Linked DNA regions of Homo sapiens. The protein of the gene in region 1 purifies or fractionates together with the protein of each later gene. This does not show direct contact. Each region holds a gene or a part of one and is shown in the gene's direction. Other genes may lie near its edges.

Region 1 (5,733 bases):
GCCTTGGGGCCCTCCTGGCCCCTCAGACCACCTCCTGCCAGCTTGGGTCCGTGGTGAACACGTTGCTTCTGGCTTCACTCTCTGTTCTTCTCCAAACGGGGGCCCATGTTGCCCTCTCGGACCCCCCACCCACGGGCCCCACTGGGCTTCCTGAGATCCAGACCTCGGGGCCAGGTTCCTACAAGGCCCCTCTCTCCCGCTCAGTCTCGCCTTTCCCAGCCCTGCCCGTAACGCTCCCCAGTGACCTCCACGCAAACCACCCTGTCCTGGGTTTTGCCCGAAGCTGCCCTCATCCCGGGAGCCTGGCCCTTTCTCCCCATCCCAGTCTCCCTGTCCACGGCCCTGGCCAATCACTGCTTAGGATCTGCCTGGGCGGGGGCTCCTGGCCCTCTCACTGGGCAAGGCATCCTCCTCTGGGTGCCACAGAGCCCTGAGTGCGTCCTCCCCACCCCCCTGAGTCACGATCAGAGTTCTCCACCACCCATCAGCCTGCCCACCTGGGCGGGGGGGTCCTGGCAGCAGCTCCACCGCCTATACATCCCTTAGCCTGGCGCAGGCCTGGCATGTAGGAGGCACCCGGGAAGTGCAGCTGCAGTGAGTGGATGAACATCTTTAGCCCTGGTGCTACTCTCAGTGGCAGCCCCACGCCAGCCTAGAAATAAGGGCTTGGAAGAAGCCCTCCGGGCAGCCAAGGCTGCTGGGGGACTGGGCTGCGAAGTGGGCAGGGCTGGGCCGGGCAGGGCTGGGCTGGGCAGGGCTGGGCAGGACTGGACTTGGAAGGGATGGGCTGGGCTGGGCAGGGCAGGGCTAAGCTGGGCAAGGCTGGGCTTGGCAGGGCTGGACTGGGAAGGTCTGGGCTGGGCTGGGCAGGGCAGGGCTGGGCAAGGCAGGGCTGGGCAGTGCAGGGCTGGGCTGGGAAGGCCTGGGCTGGGCAGGGCAGGGCAGGGCTGGGTTGGGCAGGGCTGGGCAGGGCTGGGTTGGGCAGGGCAGGGCTGGGCAGGGCTAGGCTGGGCTGGGCAGGGCTGGGCAGGGCTGGGCAGGACTGAGCAGGACTGGGCTTGGCAGGGATGGACTGGGCAGGGCAGGGCTGGGGTTTAAGCCTGGAACCTCTGGCTTGGCCTCTGCCCATCTGCTTCCCACTGGAGCTTGCGTTTAGCTCCAGGACCAGGAAGTTCCCACCCCAAGAGCCCTGCTGGGTAGGATGGAGTCCCCAGGAGGGAGCTAGGGAGGGGCCGCCAGGCGCTGTCTCACCTGGGGCTGCTGGGCAGGACCGGAGCCCCCAGGAGGGCGCTAGGGAGGGGCCGCCGGGCACTGTCTCATCTGGGGCAAGGTGGAGGCAGGGGACCTCTTGCACTCATCTGAGAAGCGACTCCACGCAGGGCCTTTGAGGAGGAGCAGAAGCTCAGAAAGCAGGAGATCATCAGTCGGATTCTGAAAGAGGAGGCTGAGGAGGAAAAGAGGAAGAAACAGCATCCCCCCACCAGTGCCAGGCACCGGCTGACCCTGAGGGACAAGACCTGGAACTACATTTCTGACTTTTGCAAGAAGACCACAGTCCCAACCAACACGTACACACTGGTGAGCAAAACGCCTTCCTGTAGACAGAAGCCGCACACCTGTGGAGGGCAGGTGGGGCCTCAGGGCTCAGGTGTGGTGAGACATCCTCTGAGGACCTCAGCACCATGGCCACCTGCAGGGGGTTGCTGAGCCCGCTGAGTGGCCGCCACTCAGCTCAAGGACAAGGGGACAAGACACACTACGGACCCACCACATGAGAGAGGCCCATGGCCGCAGCATCCCCAGCAAGGGTCCAGTGTCCTCCTGGTCTCGGTGTGCCCACCAGACCCTGCGTCACCCCCAGCAGTGTTGCTGCCCACCAGGCTGGGACCACCTTGCCTGGCCCTGTAGAGCTGGGTCAGCCGCCTGCCAGGGAGATGTGCACAGCCGTTCAGACCACATGCCTGGGATCACCCTGCTACAAAGCACTCCTGATAGCACCTAGAGGACAGCTTTCCTATCACTCATTCATTCACTCACTCATCCTTTATTCGTTCACTCACTCATTCTTTCTTCATTCATTCACTCACTCATTCTTCATTCATTCACTCATTCATTCACTCATTCACTCTTTACTCATTCACTCATTCATTCACTCACTCACTGATACACTTATTCATTCACTCATTCACTCATTCATTCACTCATTCGCTCACTCATTCACTCATTCATTCTTTACTCATTCACTCATTCACTCACTCACTGATTCACTCATTCATTCATTCACTCACACATTCACTTATTCACTCACTTACTCATTCACTCACTCACTCACATCCAGGGCCTGCTTGGTGTCCACTGCTGCTGCAGGCAACTGGCTTCAGTTGGGGGAATGTATTTCTAGTTTACCTTTCCCTAAAGGTGTGGGGTAGGGACGATGGTCCTCTCCTGAGTCTGGCACAGTGCTGCAGTCTCTGCCCTTGTGTACCCCAAAACCTGAAGGTCAAGGTCACTGCTGCAACCGATGCCCTGCTGGGAAAGAGAAAGCCTTGGGCTGCCTCAGCTTTGGCCTCCACAGGGTCTCTGCGGTGCCCTTCAGGGCACCAGAGAAGGTCCTTTCCTGCTACCCAGGCTCCCAGTGCCTGGGCTGAGCCTTTGCCCCATCCACCCCTCACTGCCCGTCTCACGCCGGGGCCTTTGCACCCGCCGATCCCTCCGCCAGGAGCACCCTGCTGCGCCTCCTTGCTCCAGAGAAGCCTCCCCTGCCCCCACCCCCACCCGTGAGCTGCTCCCTGCGATTTTCTGTGGCACCACCTGTGGCACTATACAGGTCACAGTAACAGCAATGCGCTGGCCCCGTCCAGACTTCCTGTCTGTCGCTCCATAGGACGGTCCCCAGGAAGAAGAACCCTGTCTACCCGGCCCAGTTCCCCCTTCTCCAGCAGGCCTGGGACAGAGCCAGAGCAGATAGGCAAGGCTCCGTCCCCAAACTCATTCTGAGGAAACCACCACAGCCATCCTCCTGGGGTCAGCCTGGGGCTTTTCCCGGGCATGGCTTATATCCACAGAAATGAGAACTGCGCCAGGCGCGGTGGCTCACACCTGTAATCCCAGTACTTTGGGAGGCTAGGGTGAGTGGATCATGAGATCAAGAGTTCGAGACCAGCCTGGCCAACATAGTGAAACCCCATCTCTACTAAAAATACAAAAAATTAGCTGGGTGTGGTGGCGGGCGCCTGCAATCCCAGCTACTCGGGAGGCTGAGGCAGGAGAATCATGTGAACCCGGGAGATAGAAGTTGCAGTGAGCTGAGATCGCGCTGCTACACTCTAGCCCAGGTGACAGTGCAAGACTGCGTCTCAAAAAAAAAAAAAAAAATGAGAACAGATGAGTGCCTGAGGATCGGCGCCAAGGATGCCAGTCCGTGAATTAGAACATTTTCCTATCAAAGGAAATATTTTGCAGACTCTTCTGAGCATTGTAGAAAAATATTTAATAATGTATTAAAATACTTATATTTCAAGTAGAAAAAGTTACAAAACCGTGTGCACCGCTATCTCCATGCAGAGTACGTGAGGCAGAAGAACGGGGGCAGGCAGCGGGCCATACCGGCGGGGGCTGGGCCGAGTTTCTCTTCCCTGTTCTCTGTCATGAGCGTGTCTTTGCGATGTTCCTCTCCCCGACTGCAGGACTACGAGGCTGCTGCAGGCCCCGGGCCCTCTCGGTTGCTGGAAGTCGTTTCCAGTGAGCTTATCCAGGGGGACCCCGGGGCCAGCTCAGAGGAGGAAACGTTAGCTGAGCCCGAGATCTCTGGGCTTTGGAATGAAGACTACAAGCCATACCAGGTATCAGCTCCTGCTCCTTTAGACGCTTGCAGACGGACCCCGGCCCTCTGTCGCCGGCTCGCCACCTCCCACGCCTGCCCCGGCCACACCAGCTGCTCTGAGGCTTCTCCTGGCTGTGCCTGCCATCTCCCGCCACCCTCTCCTGTGTGTGGACGCCCCCCGCCTCCCTCTCCACACTCATGCCTTTCCCTCTTCGCGGAGCCTGGAGGGCACCACGCGTGCTCGACGACCCCAAGCTCCCCCTGACAGACAGCTCGGTCACCATGGTGTAACGGGGAGGGACGGTGGGGCTCCAAAGCTGAAAGGCTGAGGGAATGACTCTGAGCTACTCCGTGTACTATTGGAGAAGCATCTTTCTAGAAGAAGCGTGCAAACTTTCTTTGACGGCCTTTTGTAAGAAACATGCCCCATCTGGCGCTGGGGTCCTTCTGCCTCTGAAAGAGCAGTTACAGCAAGACACGGTCTCTGCAGCAGTGTGGCTCAGGCTGTGGCCCTGTCCCACGTGGGAGGGCAATGCCCGCCGCCCGGTTTCTGTAAGCATTGGCCACCTCTACTGTCAGGGCAAAAGCCACCTGGTTCTGCTGGTTCTGGGGATGCCGGGCTGACCAGGGTGGTGAACAAGACAGGCCAGGCAGAGCCACCACCTGCCCACTGGGGACACCCAAGGGAGAAGGCTGCCTCTGGACAAGAGGAGGGTGCCAAGTGCCCCCCCCACCCCGGGAAGCCAGGGAGGAGGCTGCCCGGCTGCCGGGCATGGGCACCAGCAGGGACAGCCCACAGCCCAGAGCCAGGACCCACGCAGAGTCCAAGCAGCTTCTGAAGGGACAGTTCAGGACTCCAGTTCTGATCTTCCTGGTTGCTGGTGTTGGCCAGGGAAGCGGCTTTTCATCTGAGAAAGCCCAGTGTGTGCTGACACTGCCCGCTCGAGAAAACTGCTTCCTGCAGAACCTTTCAAAACCTTCCTCTTGTCCTGATTTAACAATCTGGAAAGTTCCCCCTCCACATCATTTCCCAGAAATCCACCTGAATCTGGAGCTGTCTGCTCTTGTTTCCTGGTTTCCTCTTTTTTGGAAGTGAGGGGTCCCTGCCTTGTCAATGGAGCAGAAAGTCAGTCGGTCCCCAGGGCCTTTCTGAGCAACTCAGAGCAACTCCCCGGGCCATGGGGCTCTTCCCAGCTCCAGCGCTGGTGGCAGCCGGTGGGGCTGGGCTGTCCGTGCTCTGCTAACCGCTACCCTCGCCTCCGAGCTGCCACCGGCGCCGCCCAGGTGGAGCCGCTAACAGCCCCAGCCTCTGTCTCTGTGACCCCCAGGTGCCCAAGGAGGACGTGGACCGAAAGCCCGTGGGCGGGACAAAGATGGACAAGGACATCCTGGAGCGCACGGTGGAGCGGCTGCGGAGCAGGGTGGTCCACAAGCAGGTGGTGTGGGGGCGTGAGTTCCAAGGACGCCCCTTCAACAGCAAACCGGAGCTCCTCCACTTCCAGGTGAGCCCGCAGCTGGGCCAGGAACGGGACGGGCAGCAGCACAGGACAGCAGGGGAGCCCTGCCGCAGCCCAACCCCTGACACCTTTTGCTTTTTTTTGAGATGGAGTCTCACTCTGTCGCCCAGGCTGGAGTGCAACGGCATAATCTCAGGTCACTGCAACCTCCGCCTCCTGGGTTCAAGCGATTCTCCTGCCTCAGCCTCCCGAGTAGCAGGGATTACAGGCGCCTGCCACCACGCCTGGCTAATTTTTGTATTTTTAGTAGAGACGGGGTTTCACCATGTAGGCCAGGCTGGTCTCGAACTCCTGACCTCAGGCGATCTGCCCGCCTCAGCCTCCCAAAGTGCTGGGATTGCAGGCATGAGCCACTGCGCCTGGCCTGCCTTTCGCTTTTTAACGCTGGAAAAC
Region 2 (5,733 bases), on another chromosome or scaffold:
TGACAGAAATCAATTGATTTCCTCCTTATGACAGTGCTGCTAGTCAGGTACTGTGGTTATCCTCATTGAGCAGATAACAAAACTGAGGTGTGGCATGGTAAAGTGACTTGCTAGTAAACCATGGAGCAGGAATCGAACCCTGACTTCAGGCCCATCCCTCCTCCCACCATATTATACTGTCTCTCCAGCAGCTCTGTGATGTTCCAGGGTAGTGGTTTGTGGGAAAGAATGATCCAGGATCCCGACCCCAGCCCAGATCGAGTGCTGGAAATATCCCTGAGCATCTGGAAGCTCAAGATTGAAACCATTAGTCAGAGTGCGAGGAAATGGGTGTTTTTGCCTTATGCAATTTGGTTTTATGAAGACCACAAAATGCAAACATTCTCCTGTTAATTACTCTCTCAAATTTGGACTGTAATTGAGGGAACTAGAGCTGGGGAGAGTGTAGAAACCCGTTGGAGTGGCAGGCCCGCCCGAGTCAGCATTCCCAGCCGCCTTGCACCCGCTCTGTTAATTTTAGAAACTCCTCCAGCCTGGGTGTATTATTAGCTTTATGTACAGAGGGCCACATAGCCCTCAGTGGCCTTTCTATGCACAGTTAAAAAATTTGTTTTCTTTTGTTTTTCCCAGGAGATTAAATGAAGAGGGATGACAGCAGAGTGTATAGAGGGGTGTTTGTGCACTGTGTGTGTGAATGGGGATACCTGCGTGTGGCATCTAATGAGTGTACACAGCTGTCTTTGAGTGAGGTCTATGTGGCTGGGTAGAGCATGCACGGCTCTAGGGCACCCCATAGATGCTGAAACCATCCTCCTGGGGCCCATGACTCATTAGCAGGTGTGCTGCATTCTTTGTAGTAAAGTGTGAAGCTGAGGATGGGTCCTCAGGCCTTAGTTGGGTTCTCTCAGCTGGCATATGGGTACTGGGGCCACAGGAAGGAGTGGTGGGTCATGGGGTAGAGAGGAGCTGAAGTTGGCCTCTTGGCATCCGGCCTTATCCCCCATAAGGCCCTGTCTTGAGGCCCTGAAGAGCTTGGCTTTCAAAGGAGCTGCAGAAAGCTGACTCTCTGGAAACTGCCCTTTGCCACACAGTGTGATGTAGGACAGCCATCTCACCCACCTTCAGCAAAACAGGCCCTACCCTCTCCTTGAATCACAGCCCCATTTTGAGTCTGGCAAACAAACAAACAATTTGCTATGAAGTAATTTCTTTGCAACCTGGAACTCTGCAGGCAGGGGCACTTTGGTTTACAGTGAGACCCTCTGAAGACTCGAGGAAAGCTTATCTCTTTCTTTCCCACTTCCTTCCTCCTGGCTTCCCTGCAGTAAAGAATCAAAGATGGTGGAAAGGTTATTTCTCCTGGGAGAAGACATGCTTATTTCTGCCTCACTTAATACCTTTATCTGTTATTGTGTAAATGTCTAAATTAATAGCAGAGGGAAACAGCTCTGCAGTGCAAGTTTTTGGTCTTGGGGCCAGCCCTGGGATGGCTGGTGCTTGGGCAGGGTCCCTGGGAATAACTGGCCATGCCTTCTGGATTGGGGTCTTGGCCACCTGTGTTGTTTCCACACTCCAGAAGGCCCCCTGCTTGGTGAGTTGGGAGAAACCCACCACAGACCTGTGAGTTGGTGTTGTGCCTCCTCCTCATGCTGCTCAACTTCTCCAAGGCTTTGCCCTGAGGCTCCCTCTACAAACGACTTGAAGGTGCCTGAGGCCTTAGGAGAAATGATTCTGGAAGCCCTGGGCTGGTCTCTTTCTATCACATTGAGTGGTATCTCACTGGTGCCTGAAATCCCCCCATTAATTATTCTTGTTTTGAAGCTATCTCTCCCCCTCCACACCCCCATGTTAGGATGCAAACCTCTGAGGGAAGGAGATGGTCAGACATTTTCTGATTATAGGGGATGGACTAAAGGTGGATGCCAGAGAACCAGTTTGGGAGAGGGCCAGATCAGAATGATAGGACTCATTACACAGTGAGGAAACTGAGGCCCAGAATAGGGAGGCCCTTCCGGATGTCACATAGCATGTTGATGACAAAGCTGGGGCCGGAGCCTGGGCCTCCTGCCTTCCAGGCACCTGAGTCATGTCTGTACCTCCCCTGCTCTTTGGTCATGGTCTGTGGAATGTCTCCCTGACAGCCCATCTCAAGCCACAGCTGACCCTCAGGGAGGATGGGGCAGCCTAGCCTGAGCCTGGGGTGGTGTGGGGTGAGCTGCTCCTTTTGCTAAAACAGCCTCTTGCTTCTCTCTGAGTGTCACTGATTTGCTTTTCAGCCTGACTCTTACTGCGGGCTGGGGATGGGAGGAGGAAGCTTGTTGTTGGGGCTCGGGGAAACTCACAGAAGGGCAGCACGGAGGGTATCCTTAGTGAATGAAGAGCCTCTTATTGTGTCATTCCCTGTGCCAATCTCCACATCTTGCCCTGGTACCCATGTGCCTGTCTTCCTGTCTCAGAACCTCCCAAGACTTCTCTGTCCCAGATGCTGTCCCTCAGATCTTCCTCCCTTAGTCTGTAACTTGTCCTCTCTCTCTTCCTGGCGACTGACCCCTGTGTCTCTGGGCAGATTTTACTGGGACCTGACCATGCTGCTGCTGATGGTGGGAAACCTGATTATCATTCCTGTGGGCATCACCTTCTTCAAGGATGAGAACACCACACCCTGGATTGTCTTCAATGTGGTGTCAGACACATTCTTCCTCATCGACTTGGTCCTCAACTTCCGCACAGGGATCGTGGTGGAGGACAACACAGAGATCATCCTGGACCCGCAGCGGATTAAAATGAAGTACCTGAAAAGCTGGTTCATGGTAGATTTCATTTCCTCCATCCCCGTGGACTACATCTTCCTCATTGTGGAGACACGCATCGACTCGGAGGTCTACAAGACTGCCCGGGCCCTGCGCATTGTCCGCTTCACGAAGATCCTCAGCCTCTTACGCCTGTTACGCCTCTCCCGCCTCATTCGATATATTCACCAGTGGGAAGAGGTAAGTGGTCAGTGCAAACCTCTTGGGGGAAAGGCCACTCCCCACAGAGGGAGTGAGGAACTGGCAGGGAACCTCAGATAATTGAACATAGGCTGTCAGATTGTGGCAGGCACACCTGCTCCAAGAGGACAAATACTAGTAAGTTCTTGACCTCTTATCATGTGCTGGATACTTTACATGCAGTATCTCAATGAAGTGTGTAACAGCTATAGAGGGAACCATATAGGTACATGTATATACTCATTTTTCACCTGAAGAAACAGACAGAAATATTAAGTGACTTATACAAGGTTGCATGATTAGTAATTTGTGAACCTGGAATGTGAACTTAAGCCGATCACCTCTAGAGCCCACATTATTAACCACTGCGTTATGTTGTAGGGTTTGTAAACCCATAAACTTGTTGGGGACAGGCAGGGAATAGGGATGGGTGAAAAGGGCCAGTTGGGGGACAGTAGACAGTGTGGTGGATGAGAAGAACTAGAGAACATCTCCGTTATATTGGGTGGCCTCTATGCAGCTCCAGCTAATTTTTGTCAAGTGGGAATGGGCCCAGGGTTGCTAGATCTATAGCATTATGAGAAATGGAAATCTGGATTTTTATACAAATTTTGTTGGCAACTCTCTTAGTTTGGGTTCTTCCTGAGCAGAACCTGAGACAAAGATTTGCATGAAAGGGATGTTTTGGGGATGCATTCCCAGGAAAATCTGGTAAGGGGACTGGGGAGAGGGACAGGGAAAGGCAGGAAGCCAAGCAATGGTTGGACATTGGAGGGTGTCCTGTGGATGGCTGTTTGCCTCAGCCCTATGGGATCTGAGGATAGTGTGCGCCACACCTTGGAGTTGTCCCAGTCAGGGCAAGGGAGTTGGAATGTTTATATCCCCTTACCTGTCAGTCATTGGTTCAAGGCACTGCCAGCCCTCAGCACTCACAGCCAAAGCAGTTTCCAGCAGCCCGGGCAGGCCTCTGACAAAAGGTGCGGCCGCTGGCTGTAGAGAGTGAAATCACGCGGGCAAGTTGGAGTCTTGTGCTCAGAAACTGTAAAGGGATCCTAGGGGCTGTGAACACTGGCTACAGGAGGAAAATAAAACATTGAAAAAGAACTGGGCGGACCAACTGCATTGTGAACAAACCTCACTCATCCATGGGCTGAAGCAGTCATCTGCAGCAGAGGAGCTAAGGGCTTTGCTGGGAGGAAGAGCAGCTGACCTTGCCAAGTGCTTCGGTCTGTGTCTGCCACCCACCCAAGTTACACAACTTGGCAGCAGCGGCAGGCAGGCCAGCCTGGAGGGCCTACTCTCTCTGTGAGACAGCCCACCTTGGATCCCTGCCACCTGTGGGCGGGACAAGCTTCCATGGAGGGCCATTTCCCGCTCCATCCCTGTGCCGCGTGGCTGACTTCCCAGCCTCCAGGACCCCCTGCTTGCCTGGCAGAAGTTCCCATGTTCAGGACATGAAGCCCCCCATGCTCACCCCCAGCAGCAGCCTGGGCCTCGACTGGCAGCACCTATGGCTGATGGTCAGAGGCGTCATGAACGCATGTGCCATAGGAGAAGTGTGTGCACCAGTTTGGCAGCGTCCCTCCATGGCAGAAATTCTCTTTGGCTTGGAAAATTCACATTACTTATGCTGACAGAGAGGGGCCGTGACTCTCCCAAGGTCATGCAGTTAGACCTCTGGTAGAACTGGGACAGAATCCAGCTAGCCCTCTTGGCCCCCAGCACATAGTGTGGGCTGTCCCACCCCGGTGTAGTGGAATGGCGCATTTAAGACCCAAGTTAAAATCCCGGCTCCACACTGCCTAGCATGTAGCTTTGGGTCCACTTTGCCTCTCTGTGCCTCAGTCTCTTTATCTGCAAAATAGGTATAAGTTGTACCTGATGTTTATAAAGCCTTAGCATGAAGCCTGGTGCAGAAGAACTGTTTAATATGTGTCCCTCCTGGCCGGGCGCGGTGGCTCACGCCTGTAATCCTAGCACTTTGGGAGGCCGAGATGGGTGGATTGCTTGAGGCCAGGAGTTCAAAACCAGCCTGGCCAACGTGGTGAAACCCCGTCTCTACTAAAAATACAAAAAATTAGCCAGGCGTGGTGGTGGGCGCCTGTAATCCCAGCTACTCGGGAGGCTGAAATAAGAGAATTGCTTGAACCCAGGAGGCAGAGGTTGCAGAGTGAGCCAAGATCGCACCACTGTACTCCAGCCTGGGCAACAAGAGTGAAACTCCGTCTCAAAAAAATAAATAAATAGATGTTATTTATATTTATAATATATATATATTTATACACACACACACACACACACACACACACACACACCTACCTCCCTCCCCACCAAGTTGTCTTAGTAACATTTCCTTGGTTCCCCATACTTAGCTGTCAAGAGAAACAGGGCAAGATTTATGATCCTCATGTGTCAAGTGAGGAAACTGAAGATCAGAAAGGCCAGCCGCCCCAGTGGTAGGGCTTTTGGCCTAGGCCTCCTGTCTTCCTGTTCCATGCACTTCCCGCCTTCTCAGATGGAAAGGGAATGACTTTGATTCTACGATTGTTTCCTTTCATGGCTGGGGCCCCTCCATGGGGGACTGGACTTCATTCAGTCCAGCAAGTGCTTGCCGGGCACCCACCTGTGCTGGCCTGGGTGGGCGCTGGGATCAAAGGACTAGGACGACTGTTGGCAGAGAGTGGGAGGGCAGTGGCAGGGGAGGAGATCTGTGCAACAGGTTGAGTTGGAGGTGCCTGTGAGA
Region 3 (5,733 bases), on another chromosome or scaffold:
TAGGATTTCTATAATGGAAGAAGGGAGGATGAGGGGGCCTGCGAGTGGGGCTTTAGGAAATTGCCCAGCACAGACAATAAAGCATGATTAGGTTAGGGGATGAAGTGTAGTTCCACATGGCAGAAGTGTGACCAGAAAGGTGGTTGGGGTTCAGCCTGTGAAGAAGTTTGAGCCACTGGAAGTTTTTAAGTCATAAAGGGGTGTGATGAAATCTTTGTTGACAAAGCTCACCAGTGGCAGTGAAGAGAAAGTGAATTAGATCCCAGCCAGTACAAGATGATGATCACAGATAACTATAGTCCACTCAATTTTCAGCATGCCTTTGTCTACACATCATCTTATTTTATCTTATGATGAGCATGTGAAGGGAAGATCTGATTATTCCTGGTTTCCAGTTACAAAACAGGATTAGAAATGTACATTTATATACTCAATGTCCCTCTAGTAGTTTATTCCAAAACCTGACTTTGACCCAGTTGCCTAGTTCTGAGGCTGGGGCTGTTTCCAGGTCTTCTCAGTGGAGTAATTGAATATTCTGGGCCTTCTGGTTGAGACCGCGGTTGCTTTTTTTCTTCAGCAGAATATTCCACATAAGTTCATTGGTTCTGGAGAGAAGACACTTGTTAATGGTATTACCCTTTACCATAGCCACAGAACCTCAAGAATGGCCCTCCAGAGTATGCACAGATGCTGTTCCAAAGCATGAATTAATGGATTCTCAGTAGCATGCCATAGATAAATGAAGGGTTCATCTGCCCGTTAATTGATGTTTTGGGTTTTTCATTCCTTTACCCCAAATTTACTGGGCATTATTGTGCTTATGCTTCATTTTGGACTTCAGCAGCCTCTTTTTGTCCAGTGATCTTGAGGGCCTTGATTTGTATGTCAGTCTTCAACAAATATTTACTGAGTTCTCATTTAATTTGCCAGACATGCTGTAGGCCCAGGGAATGTAACAGTGAATGTGGCAAAAATGTCTGAAGTCGTAGAGTGCACATTGTAGTTGGGGGAGAGAGGAACTAAATGACAAGCAACAGACAAAAATATATATTGTAATTTCAAGTGCTAAAAAGAAAAATAAAGCAATATGAAGGGAAAGAAGGGTGGTTCTACTATTTCAGGTAGGGTGGTTGGGAAAACACTATCTGATGGGGCTTCATTTGGGCTGAGACTCAAATGAAGTGGGGAGAGAGGCATGGGATGTTTGGGAGAAGAGATTCAGGTTGAGTGGTAGTCTGTTCTCACACTCCTAATAAAGACATACCAGAGACTGAGTAATTTATAAAGGAAAGAGGTTTAATTGAATCACAGTTCAGCATGGCTGGGGATGACTCACAATCATGGCAGAAGGCAAAGGAGGAGCAAAGGCATGTCATACATGGTGGCAGGCGCATGTTCAGGGGAACTGCCCTTTATAAAACCATCAAATCTCATGAGACTTCTTCACTATCACGAGAACAGCACAGGAAAACCCACCCCCGTGATTCAGTTACCTCCCACCGGGTCCCTCCCACGACATGCAGGGATTATGGGAGCCGCAATTCAAGATGAGATTTGGGTGGGGACACAGACAAACCATACCAAATGGGAAGCCCCCAACGTGGGGCCACTGCTGTGTCCAAGCAATAGCAAAGAGGCCAGTGTGGCCTGAGTGCAGGGTGTCATGGGGAGAGCTAACCACAGTGCTGGAGAGAAAAGCGGGTCTTGATGGTGCAGGCTTTGTGACCTTTGAGTTTTAGTCCAAGTGTCATAGGAAGCCACTGGAAGTTGTGGGCAGGGGAGTGACTTGTTGGGATTTGTGTCTCAAGCAGATCTTTCTGGCGGCCCTAAGGAGGATTGATTGTGGGGCACAAGAGTGGAGGCAAGGAGTCCCATGAAAGCTACTGCGGTGGTTCAGGACGAGAGGATGGATCAGGATGATAGTCCTGGTGAGATGCAGTTGGGTTCTGAGTATAGAGATTATGAGATTTGGATATAGAGGATGAGAGAAAAAGAATAAGATGATTCCATTGTTTTTGGCCTGAACAACTGGATGAACAAAAAGGTCGTTTACTGAGATGGTGATGTATTTTATCAAATGTACCATGGGCTATTTTTTTTTAATTTCTGTTTTTGTCGAGGTGTTGACTTGGAATAGTCTTGGCAGACTTTTCATTTAAATACACCAAAAAGGAGATGTTTTTATTTTGGGATGATTCATGACATCTGTTTGAAGCGAAGCTTTAGATGTGCTGTGTACTTTGTACTGTTACTTTTAGATCAGTCCCACAACGTTTATACTATGTGATGGAGATTAAGATATGGGAGAAACAAGATTGAAATATATTTCACTTTATTTTTAGAAATGTTTTGAATTGGCTGGTTAAAGCCCAAATATTTTTTGATGCTTCCTGGTTGTCATATTTAAAAAACTTTTTAAATTATAAAATAAACTCATGTACGTGGTTAAAACATATATCCATATTATACAAGGGTATACAATGAAGAGTAAAAGTCTTCTCCTAACTTCAGCCCTATTTCTAAGAAGGTACCACTGTCAACAGTTTCTGTGTATGCTTTGAGAAGAATTCCATTCATGTGCAAGCATTTGGCCTGATACATTTTAAAGTCATAGCTTTAAGCTAGCAGCACCACGTGTTAGGTTTCAGATTTAGTAGACTTTGTAGTCACCTTGGTAGCCCTCAAGTTAAGCGACCTGGAGTCCACTTTCTATCAACTAAGGATCTCCCTCTCCAAACCATCCCACACTGAACCACTGTGTTCATCATATAACACCCCTTCTCAAAAGCCACCAGTGGTTCTTCTCTGGGTAGAGGTAGAAATCCAAACTCATAAAGTTGGCTTTTAAGGAGCCATTCTATTCTGGCACCAGTCTCTTTTTTTCTACTCTTTTACCACTTTCCATCACAAACCCTCTACTTAAACTAAGTTTGTCCACTTCTGCTTACTGAGTCCTGACCATTTCTCCCAGATTTGGAGTGTTTTCCATCAGAACTTGGGTTCGAGGCTGTGTCTTCGTCCTGGAACACTCCACTCCACAGTAATCTCTCCCTTCTTCAAACTTGCTAAATTAGGGCTAGATACATGCACCCTATTTGAACATAATCACAAATTCTTTTATTAACTTTCTTTGTATATGTGTATTATTTGCTCAAATATATGTGACATAAATTTTACCATTTTAACCATTTTTAAGTGTACATACAGTTCAGTGGCATAAGCACATTCACATTGCTGTGCAGCCATCACCATCATCCCTCCCCATCATCATGAAAAAGATGGACGTTTTTCATCTTCCAAAACACAAGCACTGTGTCCACTAAACACTAACTCTCCATTCCCTCTCCCTCCATCTGTCTATGGACACTTGGGTTGCTTCTACTCTTGCCTATTGTGAATAATGCTGCTGTGAACATGGGTGGGCAGATATCTCCTTGAGACCTTGCTTTCACTTCTTTTGGACATATACCTAGATGTGAAATTGCTGGATCACATAGTAATTCTATTTATAATCTTTTAAGGAACCCGTCCATGCAATTTTAATATTTCCCCTTGGTATTTAACATCTCCAAAGGGAAGGGCAAAAATTTATTATCCTCATTTTGGGGGCCAAACTGAACTTGAGAAGTGTTTGTTTCAGAACACTGTCTTTGGGTGATAGTTCGTCATCAAAGTTCTTGAATTTGTTCATTTATTAGTGTGCCTGTTTTTAGATTGTAGACTTTTAGAGGACAGGCAGGTGATGTTTAATTTGCTTTGTAGAGCATGTAGCCCAAGCTCAGGTGGGGAAGGGTGTAAATATTATGCGATGTTTTATTTCAGCTAAAAAATCTCCTTGAGCTGGATGACAAGAGTCTGGGTTGCTTCCAGCTCCTTTCCTCTTGCTGTTTGCCCTTGGGTGAAGAACTTCCTCTTTCTCTGACTTTTTTTTTTTCAGGGCTTTTTGTGTGTGTGATTGTGATGGTGCCTTAACATTTATTATTATCCTTAAAATTTTCCTTGTGGATTCCTCTGTAAAACTTACATGTTGCCTTCTCTTTGTAACCTTGCCTGACAGCCCCTCTTCCTTACCAGGTCCTGGGGTAGCGCTGATTGCTTCCTCCTTTGTATTTTTACAGTACCCTTTTCACTCCTTTCTTACAGGTGGATCATCTTGTTTTGTAATTGTCAACTTGCCTTCTACACTGTTAGTTCAAGCTTCTTGCAATGGGGAACTGAGTCTCATGCTTAAAAACAAAACAAAACAAAACCTCTGCACCTAGAGCCATGTTTTATACATGGAGGGGAGTGGCTCAGAAATATTTGTTGATTAAAAAATTAGGCTGGAAACATCAGCTCATGCCTATAATCCCAGCACTTTAGGAGGCTGAGGTGGGCAGATCGCTTGAGCCCAGGAGTTTGAGACCAGCCTGGACAACATAGCAAGACCTGTCTCTACAAAAATTAAAAAGAAAAAAAAAAAAGCAGGGCATCGTGGCACGTGCCTGTAGTTCCAGCTACTCAGGAGGCTAAGGTGGGAGAATCACGTGAGCCCAGGAAAGTTGAGGCTGCAGTGAGCCATGATTGTGCCACTACATTCCAGCCTGGGTGACAGATTGAGACCCTGTCTCAAAAAAAAAAAAAAAAAATTTAAAAAATCTGACCAAGCACAGTGGCTCACACCTGTAGTCCCAGCTGTTTAGGAGGCTGAGGCCAGAGGATTGCTTGAGCCCAGGAGTTCAAGGCTGCAGTGAGCTACGATCATGCCACTGAACTCCAGCCTGGACTACAAAGTGAGACCCCATCTCAAAATAAATATATTAATTAAAAATTTAAAAAAGAATAAAGAATCATGTGGCCAGTTAGCTCAGTTGGTTAGAGTGTGGAGCTCATAAAAAATTAAAGAATGAATGTTTGAAATTACACGTAACTAAGTTCATATAATTTTAACTTGGATACAAGGCATTGTTATGCTAATAAGTTTATTATAACAGTAAGTCAACATTTATTGAGAAAGTTATGTGGTAAGCACTATGCTGAGAGTTTTCATGTGTATTTATTATTTACAATCAGACTTGGAAAAGTTAACTTACCCATGAATACCCACCAAGTAAGGTAATAGCTGGACTTGAACCCATGTGTGTTTATTCTAGAGTGCTTGCTTTGAACCACTGTGCCTGCTCATATTGGGGTGGAAGCCAACACTACATGACTCTTAATTCTCAGCGTTTCTTTTTTTTTTTTTTAATCCTGCATCTTTAATGATTTGAAATTACAGAGGTAATTAGTTGCATACCTTTATATATTGCTTTATATTTGCAATGACTAAACCTAATAGACTTGAATCCCCTTATTAGCTTTTAATAAATAATTAATGTTCTGAATCCTACTTCCAATGTAGTTATTTGACATCTAAGGATGGAGATGCTAATTAGTACTGCACAATATACCCACTCTCATAAGGCAGCTGTACCAAAACCGCTTTAGAAAAGGTCGGAATTATTGTCAAATGCAATAGCCTCCTTCCATACCCGAGGTTTCCAACTTCTCCACAACATTTGACCAGTCTCCCATTGAACCTCTGCCCTCTCTGGGCTTCTGTGACCTGGGCCCTCCTTTTTTCCCTCCTAGCTTGTTTACCACTGCTGCTGCATTTGCTGCTGTTCCTTCCTCTCTGCCAGCTTTTACTTGTTGGGATTGCCAATAGGTCTGAATCTTTATCTCTAGTCTGACCTCCTCCTCAGTCCCAGATCA
Region 4 (5,733 bases), on another chromosome or scaffold:
GGGGGCTGATGAACGGGTAGGACTGGAGCTGGGGGGCTGTGGGGGGACCCCCAGATAGGTTTCTTCCCCTAACTCAGAGTAGAGCAGGGAGAATTAAGATGGATATCCTTTAAGCTGCTGGTGCCACTGTGTTGACATTTCCCATCTTTCTACTTTGTTTTTTTGTCCTCTATGTCATATTTCATTCTCTAATTATTTTTATTTTTTTATTTTTTTTTAACCGAAGTAAAGAAAGTATTCAAATTCTAATCAAAGCCAGGAGAAATGAGCTCTGTGTCATCTCTGCAATTCAGAGGTTGGCAGTCTGGGGGGAGTTTTTGCTTGGGGTTGCGTTTTGATCATTCACTGTTGTTTTTGATGGAAGGACTAGGAATGCTTTTCATAGGCAGAGTTACAGTTAAAATAATGATCATCACAGCCATGGTTTCATGAACACATATCATGATCCAAGCAGGGTACACAGTGTTCTTGTTTCACCCTCATGACAACCCTCTGAGTAGAGACTATTAACATTGCCATTTCGGAAACTGATGCTCAGAGAAGTCAAGTGACTTGCCCAAGGGCACATTGTGACAGAGAAACAAGGGTAGAACTTGAATGCGTGATTCCACAGTTTATGCTTTTAATTGGTAAGCAACTTATTATTTTTTTATTTTGTTTAGAGATAGGGCCTGGCACTGTCGCCCAGGCTGGAGTACACTAGCGTGATCATAGCTCATTGCAGCTCAAACTCCCGGGGCTCAAGCAATCCTACCACCTCAGCCTCCTGAGTAGCTGAGACTACAGTGCATGCCACCATGCCTGGCTAGTTTTTTTTTTATTTTTTGTAGAGATGTGGTCTTGCTATGTTGCCCAGGTTGGTCATGAACTCCTGGACTCAAGCGCTTCTCCCACCTTGGCCTCCCAAAGTGCTGGGATTACAGGCAAGAGCCGCCACACTTAGCCAGATAAACAAATCTTTTAAAATGAAAGATGACCTTCAAGGTCAATTCAAGTCAGGACCAATAGGAAAAAGAGGAGATGGTTAAACAGGGTAGGGGAGAAATGGGGACAACACAAGCCACAAGGGATGGGGCTGGGCTGTGGGAAGGTCATGACTGAGGCAGGACAGCAACATGTCGTGTGGACCCCATGGTGTTCCCTGGGGATTGTACCTCGCAGCCAGGCAGAGCATGGGGTGCAGGAGCAGGGCATGGGGAGGCACAGGCAGCTGGGGAGTGCGTGCCCCTCCCCCTCCCCACATCTAAGGAAAGCGGCCACCAAGAGGGGCAAGCCCATTGTTGCCAGTTCTCCTGATTTTTACAAGAGAAGCCAGAAAGCTGGATTTTTCTGTAAAACCTCTCCATTTAAAAATGCTGGCAGTGAATTCAGATGTGTTCAAACCTTTTTTGGGCCACAAGCCGTGCCTGTGCTCCTGATTCGACCCAGGGGTCTCCAGGTGGGAGTCTACCCTGGGCGCTTCCATTTGCCCAGCGTTTTCCAAATGACAAAGGTGCTCGTAAGGGACTCTGATGGGCCCAGCGCTGTGAGGGGCTGGGGGGATCACTCTCTCAGTCTCGTGAGAGACCAGCGCCTTCACTTATGGTGCAAAGAGACAATGAGCAAATAGTTTATATGTAAGGCCCAAGAAGGGTGTGGTGGCCCACCGTTGACTCTCTGAAGACCAGGATTTTTTATCCTGGCTACCCGTGGAAATCACTTGGGTGGATCTTTAAAAATGTCTGGGCCCCACCCCTAGAGATTCTGCTTCAGTGAACAGCCAAAGTTAAGAGCCACTCTCTATGGTTTGAATTCTTCCACTTCCCCTTCCTTCCTTCCTTCCTTCCCTCCCTCCCTCCCTCCTTCCTTCTTTTCCTCCTTCCCTCCTTCCTTTCCTCCTTCCTTCCTTCCTTCCTCTCTCCCTTCCTTCTCTTCTTCCCTTCCTCCTCCTTTCCTTCCTTCCTTTCTTTCTTCCTCTAGCTCACCACATAAGCATTTATTGAGTCCTTCCCTGTTGGAGGAAATTTAAACACCTTAGCTGTTAGCATCAGGCTCCTCCCCAGCCAGTGAGAGCTGCTGACAAGGATGCAGACCCTGGAGGGTCAGGGTCCGCCCATATCACTGGTCCCATAGCTTCCACAAAGGCAGAAAAATCCAGGAAAACACACAAGGACTTACCTGGGCATAGGGTGGGCAGTGGTAAATGCAGAAACAGCCAGCCAGCTAGCTGTGTGGGTATCACTAAAACCACCCCCTTTTCCTCTGCTTCTCCAACCCATGTGCAGATCCCGGAGCTAGAGCTCCCATCCAGTTCCCCTGTCCCCCAAGTCACCACGCCAGAGCCAGGCATCTACCACGGAATCTGTGAGTAGCTCTCCTGGAGCAGTGTTGGGTGGAAGGAGGACCTTCCAGGGACAGGGGGAGTTGTGGCCACTTGGGACAGGGTTTCGCTGGACAATCGGGTGGGTTGGACACTGTACAGAGACACCAGGCCATGGGGCAAGTGGAGGCTGAAACCAGCCTGCGCTCAGCTCCCTGGCCCTAGCAGGGCCACCTCACTCCAGAGGAGGGGCATCTCTTAGCATTTTGCCTTCCCTGAGGGGCATTTTTGCATGCAGACACCCTATGTGTTAGCTGTGACCATGACCCTGACCCAGGAGGTGTAGTTGGCACCCAGAAAGTGTAGAACAAGAGGACATTAGAGCCTGAAGAGACCCAAGGCATCTGTTGGTGCAGTGCCCCGAGCTGTCTCTTCCAACTCCACCAAAGAGTAGATGCACAGGCAGAGAAAACCTGCATCCACTCTGCCCCGGGGGTGGGGGCAGGTGCACAGGCCCAGGGTACCAGGTCTTCTGACTTTTCAGAAGAAGTCGGAAATCTAGAGTCTTACGTGAAGTCTCCAGATTCTCAAATGTGTGTAACGAATTTTCTCATGTTTTAAAATATCACATGAGCCAAATAAAACACTTATTGTGTATCTGGCCAGCTGGCTGCCAGTTTGTGACTTCTGAGCAAATCCCAGGGGTTTTCTGCTGGGCCTGTTCCTCACCCTTCTTTTCCATTGATCCTTCCAGCCAGTTCCTCTCTTCATCCATGCGTGTCCACATCAGCCCCTCCCCGTCCTGGGGAATCTTCAAGCCCAAGGTCACTGCTGATTGTGATCTCCTCCCTCCTGCACCCTGCTAACCAGGTTCCTGGCAGCCTCACTTCCTGCTCTCTCCTGCCCCCTGTGAATGTGACCCGCTTCTACTTTATCTTCTGAGACAAAAGATGTGACACTGTCAGGATCCCCTCCCCACCTCCCCATCCTCATCTCCAAAATGAAGCTGGAGCCTCTCCGAATCCTGGTGTCAGCCCTTCCGGGACCTCCCCATGCCATCTCTGGAGTCCACCTGCAGGCACCTGTGCAAGCCACACCTTCCACCTAGGATGCCTCCCTGCTCCATCTCTGCCTTCTGACGACCACCTGTCGCTGGCTAGGTTCCCTAGACACAGACCCTGAGATGGAGTTTCCTGGGGTGTGCTCTTGTCAGGGAAGGGTAGGAGGCAGGATTGGGCAGAGGGAGAAGCTGGTCTGCGGTTCAGCCACTTCAAGGCCTCAGCCTGCTCCACAGGGAGCTCGGAACCTGGGATGGCCCTTTGGGGTCATCCTGAGTTGAGTGAGGGGCCATGTCTTTATCTGTATCAACATGGCACTGGCTATGGGCTGCCCCTGGGGAGGGGCATGGCTTTTTATTTTACTTTTTAATTTGTATTTATTTATTTTGACACAGTTTTACTCTGTCGCTCAGGCTGGAATGCAGTGGCATGATCTCAGCTCACTGCAACCTCCGCCTCCCAGGTTCAAGAGAGCTCCTGCCTCAGCCTCCCAAGTAGCTGGGATTACTGGTGCCCACCACCACGCCCGGCTAATTTTTGTAATTTTAATAGAGACAGGGTTTCACCATGTTGGTCAGGCTGGTCTCGAACTCCTGACCTCAGGTGATCCACACACCTTGGCCTCCCAAAGTGCTGAGATTACAGGCATGAGCCACTGTGCCCAGCCGGACATGGCTTTTTGCAAGGAGACTCTCTTCAGCCAAGGGCAGTCACAAGTCAAGAGCCTCAGTGGTGAGCTGCCAGCCGTCAGCACTTCCCGCCACCAGAGGACTAAGTCCTTCTGTTCCTGGGGGTGGGAGGTGGGGTCTGAGCAGTGCCCTAAGTGAGCTCCACATCCCCTCCCTTATGGCCCTTCTGCGACCGCATCTCCTCCCCAGGAGTCTTCTCTATCATCCCCTGTGAAAATTCATCTCTCCTTCACCTACTCCAAAATGACCAATGATCTCTTAGAAGGTGCCTTAGAGGAAGGTGCCTTATTTGGAATTCTCATAGCCCCTTACATTCCAGGGCGCACTCTCAATTACTTTCGAATAGCAGCAGTTTTAAAGGCCAACCTAACATTAGGCAAGAGCCTGGGTTGAGGCTTGGTTTCATCTCCCAGACAGGCACTGTGCTGGGCTTTCTCTGCCTTATCTCGCTGTAACACTCCTAGCTCTGTTTTCCATGAGATCAGGCAGCTGAGGCTCAGAGAGATGGAGTCACCTACCTAAGGTCACACGGCCAGTACGGAAGCTGGGAGTGCAAGCAAAGGTGTTTGAATCCAAAGCCCACATCCTCACCACACTAGCAGATTGCCTTAGGGTTGCCACTGGGAGAGCACCTCACATCAGAAGCCTGTGTGCAAGAGTCAGTGTCCCCCATGAAGCTGTGAGGTCCCAAAAGACAGCCATCGTTTTTTATTCAATTTGGTTCTCCCCTAAGTTGGTCAGGATTTTTTTTTTGGCAGGGGATGAATAATGGAAATTTAATTCAAGCTGAGTTCAGCAAAAAAGGGAACTTATTGGCTTATGCAACTAGAAGTTAGGGGTCGTCAGTTTCCACACAGCTGCGTTCAGTTACGAAAATGATGGCATCAAGACATGGTGTCTGCCTCCCTCTCCCTGCTTTCTTTTCGTCTCTTGACATTCTCCCATTCAACACCATCCATGTGGAAAGTCCTGGAAGCTCCAGTTTATGCCTCCTTTCTACCCAGCAGTCCCAGATGAAAGACAACTTCTGTTTTCCTGAATCCCAATAGTTGCAACTACTATCCCAGAATTAGATCTCTGGGCCTAGCTTGAGTCATGTACCCATTCTCTTTTTTGTTATTTTCTTTGCTTGCTGTTATTGTTGTTTTGAGACAGGGTCTCACTCTGTGGCCCAGGCTAGAGTGCAGTAGTGCAAACACAGCTCACTGCAGCCTCATACTCCTGGGCTCACGAGATCCTCCCGCCTCAGCCTCCCGAGTAGCTGGGACTGTAGGTGTGCCACCGTGCCCGGCTAATTCATATGTCCATCCTTAAGTCAGCCACTGTGACTCACCATGGTGGGTAGGGCGGGAGGTGGGAGATGGAAAACAGATTGGCCAGGCCTGGAGCCCAGAGAAAGGGGTCAGCCACCCAAACAGTGTGGACCGAGCACAGGGTGGTTCTCCAGAGCGGGTCAGAGTGTGGTCACCAGAAGGAAGGCAGGAATGCTGGCCAGGCAGAAGCAGCCACTGTCCCCTTCATCTGATGATTTCCCCAAAGATGCTGCCTGTAGATGTGTTTCCTGCTGACCCAGCTCCTGACCTTTCACAGAGATGTTATTTCAGTGCCTTTGGGAATTTGGCCCTGGAGTAGAGCTCAAAGACCTTTTTACTGCAAGGCAAGTGTAATTTCTCTTCTCTTCTCAGTA

What was found.
Region 2: the proteins of CFAP74 (region 1) and HCN4 purify together in Homo sapiens (co-immunoprecipitation; one large-scale study listed by IntAct). This does not show direct contact.
Region 3: the proteins of CFAP74 (region 1) and SPTB purify together in Homo sapiens (co-immunoprecipitation; one large-scale study listed by IntAct). This does not show direct contact.
Region 4: the proteins of CFAP74 (region 1) and KATNIP purify together in Homo sapiens (tandem affinity purification; one large-scale study listed by IntAct). This does not show direct contact.

The regions. Positions count from the first base shown.
Region 1 is NC_000001.11:1,964,480-1,970,212, reverse strand, and holds part of CFAP74 (cilia- and flagella-associated protein 74), read left to right. Parts: intron 1-1,379; coding exon 1,380-1,578; intron 1,579-3,686; coding exon 3,687-3,842; intron 3,843-5,151; coding exon 5,152-5,325; intron 5,326-5,733. UniProt on the Homo sapiens protein: As part of the central apparatus of the cilium axoneme may play a role in cilium movement. May play an important role in sperm architecture and function.
Region 2 is NC_000015.10:73,340,642-73,346,374, reverse strand, and holds part of HCN4 (potassium/sodium hyperpolarization-activated cyclic nucleotide-gated channel 4), read left to right. Parts: intron 1-1,190; exon of another isoform or gene 1,191-1,319; intron 1,320-2,566; coding exon 2,567-2,990; exon of another isoform or gene 2,991-3,105; intron 3,106-3,879; exon of another isoform or gene 3,880-4,062; intron 4,063-5,309; exon of another isoform or gene 5,310-5,362; intron 5,363-5,733. UniProt on the Homo sapiens protein: Hyperpolarization-activated ion channel that are permeable to Na(+) and K(+) ions with very slow activation and inactivation. Exhibits higher selectivity for K(+) over Na(+) ions.
Region 3 is NC_000014.9:64,868,517-64,874,249, reverse strand, and holds part of SPTB (spectrin beta chain, erythrocytic), read left to right. Parts: intron 1-1,571; exon of another isoform or gene 1,572-1,928; intron 1,929-5,733.
Region 4 is NC_000016.10:27,751,909-27,757,641, forward strand, and holds part of KATNIP (katanin-interacting protein), read left to right. Parts: coding exon 1-16; intron 17-2,264; coding exon 2,265-2,343; intron 2,344-5,733. UniProt on the Homo sapiens protein: May influence the stability of microtubules (MT), possibly through interaction with the MT-severing katanin complex.